Homo sapiens: one gene and its partner. The protein of the gene in region 1 purifies or fractionates together with the protein of each later gene. This does not show direct contact. Each region holds a gene or a part of one and is shown on either strand. Other genes may lie near its edges.

The links.
Region 2: the proteins of NTMT1 (region 1) and METTL13 fractionate together in Homo sapiens (co-fractionation; one large-scale study listed by BioGRID). This does not show direct contact.

What each region holds. Positions count from the first base shown.
Region 1 is NC_000009.12:129,629,163-129,632,662, forward strand, and holds part of NTMT1 (N-terminal Xaa-Pro-Lys N-methyltransferase 1), read left to right. Parts: intron 1-3,487; 5' UTR 3,488-3,500. UniProt on the Homo sapiens protein: Distributive alpha-N-methyltransferase that methylates the N-terminus of target proteins containing the N-terminal motif [Ala/Gly/Pro/Ser]-Pro-Lys when the initiator Met is cleaved.
Region 2 is NC_000001.11:171,784,660-171,788,159, forward strand, and holds part of METTL13 (eEF1A lysine and N-terminal methyltransferase), read left to right. Parts: intron 1-1,219; coding exon 1,220-1,419; intron 1,420-3,075; coding exon 3,076-3,271; intron 3,272-3,500. UniProt on the Homo sapiens protein: Dual methyltransferase that catalyzes methylation of elongation factor 1-alpha (EEF1A1 and EEF1A2) at two different positions, and is therefore involved in the regulation of mRNA translation.

The sequences.
Region 1 (3,500 bases):
CCGTCCTCTCTTGAGTGACTGATGGAGGGCTGTGACATGGTTGCTCCGGTACCTGCTGGCAGAGGGGCAGGCAGCCCACCTAACCTGGTCCTTACGCCATCAGACCATAGCAGCCACCAAACCCAGCTACATGGTGACATTCAGATTGGTGGCCCTTTTTCCTGTCAGCTACCCGGGCACATCTAGCAGTCTTGAGGATTGGCAGGTCTGGTGGGAAGAAGAATTCATTCTTCTTCTTCTTTTTTTGACACAATGTCTCACTCTGTTGCCCAGGCTGGAATGCAGAGGCAGGATCATGGCTCACTGCAGCCTTGACCTCCCAGGCTCAAGTGATCCTCCCACCTCAGTCTCCCTAGTAGCTACTAGAATGTGTGTATTTTTGACAGAGATGGGGTTTCTGAGCCGTGGGCTTCTTTCTCCTTCCGGCAGTGTTGTTCCCAGTGCTGGGACACCAGTGTGGGAGCTTTGTGGTCAGCTTGCGGGGAGGGTGTTATGTGCAATATTTAGAACTAAGGTCCTCCCCAGCCTGTTACCCCAAAGGGCTCCCTGATTGGTGAAGTGACTGCTGCCTTTCTTCATTGTGGCTGAAACCCTTGTGCGTGAACAGTAAAGTGAGGGGTCAGTCTGCGAGCGGATTCAAGAATCTGAAGAGGGAAGCCAGGTGCAGTGGCGTGCGCCTGTAATCTCAGCTACTTGGGAGGCTGAGCAGGGAGGATGGCTTGAGCCCAGGAGTTTGGGGCCAGCCTGGGCCACATAGTAAGACCCCATCTCAAAAAAACAAGAATCTGAAGAGAAGTTTAAGCAGGCTTCTCTCTAGGCACAGCCAAAGGATTCTGCTAAGGGTGAGAAGACCCAATCACGGATCTAAGAAGAACCCCGTTGCATCTGTTAGAAGTATTCTTGAGCTGGCTGGGCGGGGTGGGCCTACTGCTTCTGGAAAGTTCCTTCTCTTTCAGGACAGGTTCAGAATATAGTAGTGCAGAATATAGTTCTGGGGCCAGTAACAAATTTGACCAATGAAAAATCTTGGCTGGGTGCAGTGGTTTCTGCCTGTAATCCCAACACCTTGGGAGGCTGAGGCAGGTGGATTGCTTGCAGCCAGGTGTTTGAGACCAGCCTGGGCAACGTGGCAAAACTCCATATCTACAGAAAATACAAAAGTTAGCCAGGTGTGGCGGTATGTGCCTGCAGTCCCAGCTACCCTGGAGGCTGAGATGGGAGGATCACCTGAGCTGTACTCAAGTCTGGCGACAGTGAGACCCTTTCTAAAAAAAAAGAAGAAAAAATTCTCCAGCTTGTCTTGTGTTTAGTTTCCCTTCTCTTTCCTCATAGTTGCTTCCCAAAGGCCTCGTGCTCCTTCTCAGGGCATTTTCCCGTTTCCCTCTGACCACTTCTCTTGAAGCCCCTAGAGTGTTCCTGGGTCTTAAGCTTTGAGTTGTGTTTGAGGACTGTACCCGAGTTCCATATGTGGACTCTTCCGTGTTGACCCTGTAGCTCCAGGAGTCAGGCAGACGGTCTTGGACCTACGATTTGTCAACTTTGGCGACAGGCATTTGCTAGAAGCCCCCTGCTCTCCTCGTGTGGAGGCAGCACGTGCGAGGCGGTGAGCTGCAGCTCCCAGTCAGCTGCGCGTTTTCCACCGAGGGTATTTTCCCTTTACCATGGGTTTATCAGGATGTAGCAGCTGCTGCTGCTGGGATTCCTACCACCCACTGTTGCTGTGTGTCCTCAGCACGGCCACTGCCATTCTCACTCTGCCTCCTTTAGGTTAGGCCTTGGCAGTGTGGGAAACACATCAGCCGAGAGTTGGTGCCCAGCATGCACTCGAGGCCACCCTCATCCAGGCCCCGTCTGCCTTTCCGAGCTCACCTTCCACAGTCTTCCCCCGCTCCACTCTCCGCCCTCTGATGGCCCATGCTGTCCCACGGCTGCTCCCTCTGTCTGCCCCACCCCCTCCAGCACTCCCTGTGCTTGGCTGCCCAGCTCGGGCTGCCTCCTCCAGGCGGCTGCCCCTATCTGCTGTTGGGAGGAGATTCCTCTGCCCTTTGAGTGTCCTCGACACTTTGTGGGTCCATGAGAATCCTTATTTTTCTGCTGTGTATTTTCTTTCCCTTTGTTCTTTGTCCTCCTGGACTAGAGCTCTCTGAGGTCTTGGCAAGCCTCACAGCAACTAGAACAGCCCCTAAGCGTGGTGTGCCTTGGTGACAGCACTGTGCCTTGGGAAGCTTATGGCAGAATGGCCACCCGTGGAGCACGGAGCCGCCCAACTGTCATCGCTGTCCTGAAGGGTGAGGTGGGCCTGGGCTCTGCTGCCAGGACCCAGCTGAGGCTTTCTAGTTCTCTCTCCTTCTACCGTGGCAACCGTCTCCTCATCCCCCTGCCATCTCCACCGCCGCCAGCAGTCTTCAGAAGCATCGGTCTTCCCGGGCCACTCTCTGTTGGGCCTCAGGGTGGTTGACTCATTGCTCTGTAGGATGCAGTCGAAACTGCTAGAGTTGACTGTGAGACCAGGAACTGGCAGCCGCGAGGGCTGTCTGTCCTTCCCTCCAGGAGCAGTGCCGTCGCCCTCCACCTACTGCGCTTATTCTTGCCCATCCATCGGTTTCAGCTTACGCGTCCCCTCCTCAGGGATGCCTTCCCTGGTCCCCGCACCCGACTCCACTTCCTCCCTCCGTGCTCTGCTGGCACTGGCGCTTCTCCTCTGCAGCCCTCCCTGCAGGTGTGGTTGTGTCTGTAGAATTGTTTTCTGCCTGGCTGGCTGCCTGGTTCACAGCCCGGTGCCTGGCACAGAGTCCCCACTCCTTGTTAACGGAGGACTGGACCCCACCGTGAGTTGTTGCTGTGCTCTGAGCCAGAGGAAGGGAGGCGTGGAAGCTTCCCTGGCCCTCCAGGGTCTGCTGGTGCTCTCGGCTTTGCGGTCGTTTCTCTTTATTGATCAGGGTTTTCTGTGCCCTGAAGCCACTGAGTCAGGTGTCATATAGAGCATATCAAGAACTTGAAGCCAGGCCAGGCACATGGGCTCACACCCGTAATCCCAGCACTTTGGGAGGCCAAGGTGGGAGAATCTCTTGAGGTCAGGACTTCAAGACCAACCTTTGTAACATAGTGAGACCCCATCTCTACAAAAAATAATTAGCCAGGCATGGTGGCACACAACTGTAGTCCTAGCTGCTCCGGAGGGTGAGGTGGGAGGGTCTCTTGAGCTCGGGAGTTGGAGGCTGCATTGAGCTATGATCACACCACTGCACTCCAGAAAAAATAAAAATGTAAAAGAACTTGAAGCCAGGACTTGGGGCGGGTGCTCTGAGTGCAAAAGACAGAAGATGCTGTTATCCAAGGGGTAGAAGCAGATTTGGGGACCCTGGACTTCTCTCTGCACTCAGCAGGATGTGTGACTTGTGAAGCCTGGTGTGAGACTGGCCCTCTGCCCTGGGGGCCTTTCTGCCAGGTCCCTGGCCCGCTGACTCACGCCCCCTTCCTTACCCAGGAGAGTCGCGGTT
Region 2 (3,500 bases), on another chromosome or scaffold:
GGCATGATGAAAGGAGAGTAATAGCTCTCTAGCAACCTACTTGGAGTTGAGACCTATTCCTTTTCATCTGCCATTGCAAAGGCTTGATGAAGTGTGAGAATGGGGTTGGTAGGGAAGAGAGAGAATAGAGATAAATTTAGGAGGTCACATATGATATAGAGATGCTAGTTACTTTGTAGCATGGAGTAATGGAAGTAATGCTGGACTAGCAAGTCTAAGACATAGGTTCTAGTCCCAGCTGTAGCCTGTGAGCTGCAGGACCTGGGGAAGTTGCTGTGCTTCTCTGCAAAATTTGGAGAGGCAGCATAGGGTAGCAGCTAAAAAAGTGAGCTCTGGAACCAGACTGTTTGGGTTTCAGTTTTGGCTCAGTCATTTCCTGATGGTGTGACATTAGACAGGTTACTTTTCTTTCTCTGCCTTGATGGGATTGTAACTCTGGTGTAGTTGTGAGAAGTATAAAAGCTCTTAGAAATGGTACCTGGCCTTGGAAGTGCTGTGTAAATGTTAGCCATTATTACTGAAAGCAGTAAGTTATATCAGATTTATCTTAATAAGGATAAAAAAGATAGTAGGAGGAAGTGCTTTCAAAAGTGGAACATTGTAGACAAATGCAAAGTGTTTATGGTCTTGGTGTTACGGTAATTTGTTTCCTGGTGACTGAGCTAGTTTTTCAAGTATTCTATAATTCTGTCTGTCCATGTGTGGAAATAAATAGTGCAGTGAATACAAGCGTGGGTAGAGTCTGGGGCTAGACTGCCTGGGTTTGAGTCCCAGCTTCACCATTTACTTATTGTGCGAAGTTGGGCAAATAGTGTAACTTCTGTTTCTCAGTTTCCTCATATGTAAAAATGGGAATAATACTACTACCTGCATCTTGGACTGTTGGAGGATTCCATTAATATATATTTGTCAACAGCTTGGAGTCATGCCTGGCATGGCTTATTTGTGTTGGCATTACTGCTGTTTTTCTTGTGGTAGGTGTCTGCCTCCTTCCCCTACGGACATGCCCACACTTCTTCTCCACCCTTGGTCCTGCCTTATGTCTGATGGGCTGCTTTGCCCTAGATGTTGTGAACTAGAGAATTGTTAGCTCCTCAGTGGGTCACAGTTGGGGAAGATGCTGGTCTTGGACAGGGACTGGCTCCCTGCCGTTTGGGCCATATTGGTTGTGGGCTTGATCACTTTCCAGGACTCCCTGTAACCAAGTTCTTTTTTCTAGTCCCTCAGGGCCGGGAGACCGAGTGGCTCTTTGGCATGGATGAGGGCCGGAAACAGCTGGCGGCCAGTGCTGGCTTCAGGAGGTTGATTACAGTGGCCCTTCACCGAGGTCAGCAGTATGAAAGCATGGACCACATCCAAGCTGAGCTGTCGGCTAGAGTCATGGAGCTGGCCCCAGCTGGGATGCCCACCCAGCAGCAGGTAACAAAGCTTTCGTACGGCTTTCATGGGTCTCTGAAGTCATGTTAGCAGCCAGGGAGGCAGAGGGAGCCTTGGCAGGAGCTAGGACTAGAGTCTGTGACTCTTCATCTAATCCTGGAGGGGTATCAGCAGCTAAGGGTTAAATGGCAGGGAAACTGTCCTTTGCCCCAGGCAATGAGAGGAAAGTGAGCACAGTAGCGTCTGTGTCTGGGGGAGCCTCTCAGAGTCCATAGACATGGCAGGATGGAAATGCTCTACTCATTGCGGGCTTCAGTTCTTCCTAATTTGAGTTGCTCTGACTGTGGATTTCTCCTTCCACACTGGACTTTCTTGGTCATTTTGCTTCTTAGAACTATCATTATCTGAGGGTATAAATGGAAGAGGGCCAAAACAGCTCAGCACAGTTATCCAGGTATTCACATTGCTGGTCAGGTGTTTTACTGGGAAGGAAACCGAAGGTTTTTGCCTAAGTGGTGATATGGTATTATCAGTTAACACCAACTGTCTTGTGCTATCCTGGTCACCATGGGTAACGAACAAGTGATTTTACTAAAAGAACTTCATGATGAGGAGTTGATCCTTTTTTTTCTTTTTTGAGATAGGGTCTTGCTCTGTTGCCCAGGCTGGACTGGAGTTCAGTGGTGTGATCACGGCTCACTGCAGCCTCAGCCTCAACCTCCTGGGTTCAAACCATCCTCCCACCTCAGCCTTTGGTAGTAGCTGGGACTATAGGTGCAAGCCACCATACCTGGCTAGTTTTTTTTTTACATTTTTTGTAGAGACAGGGTCTCCCTATGTTGCCCAAGCTTTGATCCTTCTTGATAGGTGGGAAAGCAAAGGTATCTAGAGGCTTGGTGCAAATAGTAACAGATCTGAAAAAAAAGAACCCAGGCTCCTGGGTTCCTGGCCTGTGGTTTTGCCCACTAGGCTGACTCGTGTTTACAGATGAATGTAAGTTTGATTCTTCCTGGCCAACTTTGGGGTTGATGACCCCTATTTCAAGGAAGCCCAGATCCTCTGAGGAGCTTCATTTGTGGCCTCTCACCAGTGCCTGAGTCTGCAGGGTCAGGAGATATTGGTGATTATTAACTAGTCTTATAGGTCTTTAAAAAAAGAAATAAAGATAGGGGGAAGGAGTGGGAAAGTTTAGGGGGAAAGTATATTTTTCTCCTAAGGTTCAGAAAAGTGGGGGAAAAATAGATGAGAATAATCAGGGGAAAGGAATATCTCTCTAGATTTGGAGTGGTTGTTTCTCCCATGGATTTTGTTATCTTTATTCTTGTGTAGATTCCTTCTCATAATCACAGCCCCTTCCTGAGGGTTCCCTCTAGCTTTTGTTATCCTGGACTATTGAGAGTTCTTTTAGGGGTTACTGATGAGAAAAACCCCTAAAAGAACTTGGGGAGAATCAGCTGCATCTCACTAGTTGTTTGGGAGATCTTTATGTGTCCAGTTGATTTTCAAAAGATGAATTAAACCTTTGAGATCAGTTCAAAGGCTCCAGAAAAGTACTTTAATAGAATGGCAAATCTGTGGAGTAGTTGTTGTCTAGAACCGTGGTATGGGGATATATACACACAAAAGGGAAGGGGTTATAATTTCTCTTATTTCTTAAATGAGCTGCTGTTTTGACCACATCTCTGGTTGTACCTTCAGGTCCCCTTTCTGTCTGTGGGTGGGGACATTGGGGTCCGGACCGTTCAGCACCAAGACTGCAGCCCCTTGAGCGGTGACTATGTCATTGAGGATGTGCAAGGGGATGACAAGCGATACTTCCGTCGACTGATCTTCCTCAGCAACAGGAATGTGGTGCAGTCCGAAGCCAGGTTGCTGAAGGATGTGTCTCACAAAGGTGAGGTGTCATAGGCACAGTGGTGGGACCCAAGTGGCCGTGGCATGGACTAGATTTCTTGGGAGCTTGGCCGAGATGTAGGATGGACCTGGGTGTCTGTAGGTTCTTAACCATCTGGACTCTTAGGGTGTGAATAGCTATAAGCAGAGTACATTCTGTTCTTGAGCAGAGCCTGGCTCTGAAGTGATAGGGGACGTGAGTAGTGAAACCAAATACAGTGATAATCACA